2 separate regions of the Homo sapiens genome follow, and region 2 is linked to region 1. A link means that fine-mapping ties the variant in region 1 to the expression of a gene that starts in the linked region. Tissue or cell type: whole blood. Region 1 holds a variant in brackets; the other region holds the start of a gene. All regions are shown on one strand. Distances are between the middles of the regions.

What was found. PIP is the estimated chance that this variant, and not a neighbour inherited with it, causes the effect.
Region 2: MYO9A starts here. The variant in region 1 is fine-mapped to the expression of MYO9A in whole blood (INTERVAL, PIP 0.95).

The regions. Positions count from the first base shown.
Region 1 is chr15:72,500,322-72,503,007 of GRCh38, forward strand. The region is part of intron 1 of ARIH1 (ariadne RBR E3 ubiquitin protein ligase 1); the gene reads left to right. Among named protein-coding and RNA genes, the nearest start is that of ARIH1, 27 kb to the left of the region's middle. The variant C/T (reference allele first, on the strand shown) is at 1,713.
Region 2 is chr15:72,116,594-72,119,279 of GRCh38, forward strand. It overlaps MYO9A (myosin IXA), which reads right to left and starts at 1,557. Exons shown (of 42, transcript NM_006901.4): 1 at 1,087-1,557. It overlaps SENP8 (SUMO peptidase family member, NEDD8 specific), which reads left to right and starts at 1,810. Exons shown (of 2, transcript NM_145204.4): 1 at 1,810-1,871. RefSeq lists an enhancer at 499-708 and a silencer at 909-1,678.

The DNA of each region.
Region 1 (2,686 bases):
TGACCTCGTGATCTGCCCGCCTCGGCCTCCCAAAGTGCTGGGATTACAGGTGTGAGCCACTTTATGACTTTATTTATTTATTTATTTTTTAAGTTTCAGCCTTTTCTCTGAAGAGATATGTAAGTGTGAATCTTCTAATCCATTGTGCTGGATCTTCAGTGGACCCTTTCAACTGGAAGACTTGTGTCCTTATAAAGCTTTGGGGAATTAACTTCTGTTACTGCTTTGCTAATTTCATTCCCTCTCTTCTTCTTTTGGAATTCCTATCAGTTGAATGTGAAAAACAATGGATATAACTTAAAATAATGATAAGTTATGGAAGAAAGATTGAGAGGTGCATGTAGCGTGCCAGATCCTCATCTTTCACATTAGGAAGGTGACAGATAATATCTAAAATAGAAAAATAATAACTCCTTGAGCATAAGCATATTATTTAGCATAAAAGTAAATACTAGAAGACACAGAAGAGTTTAAAATGGTTACCTCAGAGGATTAGAAATCAGTAGTGACTGAAGTATGGCAAAGAACACTGTTAAATCTTGCAGTACCATTAACTTCTAAAACTATGTATGTATATTAAATAAAATAACTTAAAAGTGATTTAATGTAATCCTTAAGGTCTACATTTAATGATACCTTCATTCTTTAAAATATCGTCAGGAAGTTTATGTAGACGTGTTCTTAGACCAAATATACACTATCAGCCTTCATGGGAGGAGGTACACACTATGTATTCCTTTGTCATGATTCGTAATTATTGAGCTGTGTATTTTGAGAATAATTGATAGAGAATGTACTGGAGATTTACATGGCCTGTTATTGCTTGGTTTTAAAACTTAAAGGATACAGGGGTATATTTTTGTCTAATTCAAGATCATTTGGATTTATGACTTTTATTAGCTTTAAAGAAGCCTACAATGGCTTTTTTCAAAAATAGAATTTTTCTTAGAAAACAGTTTTTAAGAGACAAATTTATTTAAATGCCCACTCTTTTAAAATAAAGTTAGATGTATGGTTTTCAAATAATCTTATGTTTGTTATTGAACAAAATCTTATTTACTGTATATACAAATATATAGTATGGATGAGTAAGAAGCAGTGAATTGCTAATCAGAATCCCACCACTTATCAGTAAGTGTTTTGAGTTGCACGGTTTGAGAAAGTACTGGTTCAAATGCTGTTAAAAATCAAATTTTTGTATGCTGTCTCTAGATGGTTTGTTGATGACCTAGTGGTTGTGTTAAAGAAGTGGAGTTACATTGAAGTCACGCGAATGTTTTGCTTGTGTGTTTGGTGGAACATTTTTAGTATATGCCACAGCAGATACGTGGAATGCTGATACTTAGGGCTTAACAGTTGGAACCCAGAAGTGAGTATGTGAACAAATAACTGAAAGGTTACAAAATAACTTTAATCATCTCACAATTCTAATCACCACAAAAATAATAAAGTAGCATGAGGTGGTCTATATTTATGGTTTACATTAGCCCCACTGTGCCAGGGCAGTTTGGAATTTAAGTTACCTGGTTCTTGGCTCTACCTTTAGTTTGTACCCTTTTTATCAATAGGGCTTTTTTGCCCCTATAAGGAATAGCCAGTTAAGAGACTGCAACCCAAGAAAATCTTGCCTGAATGGAGTTTCAGGTAACGATAAAAGTTTAAAAACTAGGGTGTTATATATATTAGAAGTGACTTGTCTCTTGATGCAAAGT[C/T]ATAGACTGCTATTTTAAGTCTTGAGTATTTTTTTTTGATATAACATTGAAGGATACCTTACCTATTGTTTCTATTGTTCATGTAAATATACCCTTCCATTATCTCTCCCCACTTTGGTTTGCCGCTGAATTTTTATGGAAGAAATCAAATGATTATACATAGTGATAACATCCTTCTACTTACAGAAACATTGTATTAAAACACTGATTAAACTCTTGATGTTTTCTAGAGGTGAAATCTTTATATTTGGGATGACATAGAAGGAAGTAATTTCCCTCATAAAATAAATGTGCAAAGAACAGCAAAGCCCAGATGTGTCATTGGCTAGGCACATTTATTAACAAGTTTGGATGCATCAGGATTACATATTTAAATCAAATGCATATCTCAGCAAAATTTCAAATTGTTATGTATTTATAGGATTGCCAACAGTTAATTGAAACTTGTCATTGTTAAATTTTGCTTTAAATAATCTCCAAGAGTAATGAGTGGCTGGGCACTCACTCATGGCTGTAATCCCAGCACTTTGGGAGGCTAAGACAGGCTGATTGCTTCAGCCCAAGAGTTTCAGACCAGCCAGGGCAACATGGCGAAACCCTGTCTCTACAAAAAAATAAAAAAATTAGCCTGGCATCGTGGCACGTGCCTGTAGTCCCAGTTACTTGGGAAGCTGAGGTGAGAGGATTGCCTGAGCCTGGGAGGCAGAAGTTGCAGTGAGCCAAGATCTCGCCACTGTACTCCAGCCTGAGCGACAGAGCCAGACCCTGTCTTAAATAAAATAAAATTAAAAAAAAGAGTGATGAAGGTATGACATTCCTGCCTGCTGAAGTAATCTGAGAAGCCTCTTTAAGGGGGAGTTCTCTCAAGAATATTATCCTCAACATTTTTACCTTTTACCTTCCTTCTCCTGTGGTAGCTTAGAAGTAAATATTCATAACTGGGAAGTTTGATGATCAGTGTTTAGTTGTAAATT
Region 2 (2,686 bases), 380 kb before region 1:
ATCTTATTTTTCTAGCAAATCCAAAAAACAGTGAATCCAAAAAAAGTCCCCTAGTATCCTTTAAAAATAAAAATAAGAAACAGTTCTAGTATCTGCAGCAATCGACAAGGAGGTGAAGTAATACTACAAGACGACATAGTTATATCCACTAGTGCAACGTGATTTAATCCTTACAGAGGTCCCTAAAACATCAGTGCTGGACAACCTCACACGTTCTACACAGAACAGACAAGACGAGGTGCAGGCTCTGTGACCTTATAATGGCACACACACAACTGGCCTCATGCTTCCATAACTTCACTCTGCCTCCCACTTTTTTCAGCCCAACCCCTCCAAACATGGGTCTCGGTCGGTCCCCTTAAGCCACAATGGAGGGAATACATTAGGCTAAGCAAATATTCCCTCAGGATTTCATGGCAAAGCCCTTTCAACCAAAGAAAGGATCGCGACTAAGGAGAAAGATAACAAGGTTTGCTTGAGGAGAGGTCTGTTGAGAGAGGCTACAGTCGGTGGTGGGAGAGAAGCCAAAGTCTGTGACGGTGTCTAGAGGGACTGACACCACATCTACCGGGAGTAAGAACACCATGACAGCGGCTATCTGAAAGCCGTGATGGCTAGGGTTAGTGCTAGTCGGCTTGGTGATGAGCGAGCTGGGAGGGGTTCTACTAAGAAGAGTAGGGCGAGGGGCACATGGGGGACGCAATGGGTTAGGGGGCGGTCGAGACTTTGCCTGAGAACTGTAATCACGTCAGCCCAAGGGAGGATGTAACGTAGTCTAGAAGCTCCATTAAGAGTCCTAAGGGACTCTGAGGGGTACTAATGGGGTCTGCTGGGTTGGGGGGACCGTGACAGAATCTCCGGGGAGGCTGGAGGGCCGGAATGGTGCCCGGCCAATGGAAGATACAGGGGGTGGGGTCTACTGGGGATCCGGGGCCGTGATCTGGTGTTTGGGAGGCTCGGCGCAGACCCGCTCGCGGGGCGTCTCCGCTGGGACGGGGCGGGGCGGCCCGACCGGAGCCAAATAGCGAGGCTGAGACGTGGGCCAGGACGGGCTGCAGGGCCGCTGGGCGCTTGGGCGGGTCTTACCTCGGGCTCCGCCGCGGTGGCCACCGCAGCCCCCTCCTCTTCGACGGAAGCTGCCTTCCACCCTCCGCCCCAGGGTAGGACCGGAGATGGCAGAAGAGGCCGAGGCCACCGAGGGTCGGACGGTTCCGGGAGGGTGGGCCCAGCAGCCTCAGGGTCCGGGCGAGCGGCCGCGGCGCATCCCCCGCCCTGTCAGAGAGACTCCGCCCGGCCTGAGCAGGCACATCCCCCGCCGCACCCCGCCCAGAGAGCACGCGTTGGACCGCCGCCTCAACCGCTGCCAGCGGCCGCCTCTGCCGGTGCAACTACTGCCTCCGCCGCCGCCTCTCGCAGTCCGGGCTGTCCTGTACTCTCTCAACAGACACAGCCAACCGCCGCCGCGTCCCTTATCCGCTTCGGTCGCGCGCCCCCGACCCCGCGCACGCGGCCCCGCCCCGCGCGACTCCCCGGCTGCAGGCGAGCAGGCGCGCGCGCACTTACCTCCCACGCCCCCTACTGCCAGCACGGGTCGGCCCCGCCCTGTCCCGCCCCCGCACGTGACGCCACTGGAGAGTACAGCGTGCGCTTGCGCAGACACGCCCCCTTTCCTACGCCCCAGGCGGCCCCGCCCAAATTTTTTCTTCTTCACCTTACGGCAGAGCAGGGAACTCAGCTTTAGATTCTCCCTGTACTGGAAAGGGATGTCGCAAGGTTGGGGACGAAACCTCTGAGTTTGCGACCGTAGCTGTCGCTTTCCGGCCAACACAGAGGTGCCTGAAGGCTGGTTGGGGTGGTGAGGCCCGAGGCAGGTAAGAAGCCTCCTCCCCACTTCGGTTTGTCTCGGCAGTGGATCGCTCTCCCACCCACTCAGATTCTGGCGTATCCGTGCTCCCTCCCGATTCTGGACCTGGATTCTCAGCGCCGCCGGTCATAGCCCCCGCCCCTTTTCAAACACGCACGCTCTCTCCACCCACTGCCCCCTCCATTGTCCCCGCCCCGACCTCCGTTTCCATTCATTTCTCAGACTTTTCACTGAGTGGTTTCCATGCCTTGGGTTCCAGAATGTCAGAGGCGAATTAAGTGGTGTCAGCTTTTTGAAGTGCTTTTGTATAGGAGACCGTGAGAGAATCCGCAGTGGTAGTACAATAAAGTGACAATAGAGAAAAATGCACGGGATGCTGTCTGCGCACAGAAGAGGGGTCCCAGGTTGTGTAGGAGGATAACGTGAGGAAGCCCTTTCCAGGGTGACTTTTGGGTCACTTTTAGAGGACTGTGTTAAAAGACTAGTAATCCAGTACCTGGTCAAAGAAATACGAAAGGAGGTAAAAGCAGAATAACGGGCGCAAGAGCATGTGACAGTGGTGGTCTGAAAGAGAAAAAAGAAGTAAAATAAACCTGATGGAAACCGTACTAGTGTAGACTTCCCTTTAAAGAAGCATCGTTATAAAGTTAGAGAAATGAGGAACGAGAATATGGCCCTCAGGAATGTTTTCTGTTTAGGTAGAAGACTCAAAAGCGTACCATGAAACCGAGAAGTGGCCTCTTCGAGGGTGAGGGAGGCTAATTTATAAGATCAAGATCACTAGTGGAACGCAACCTTGTATGTGCATTTGAATCACCTGGG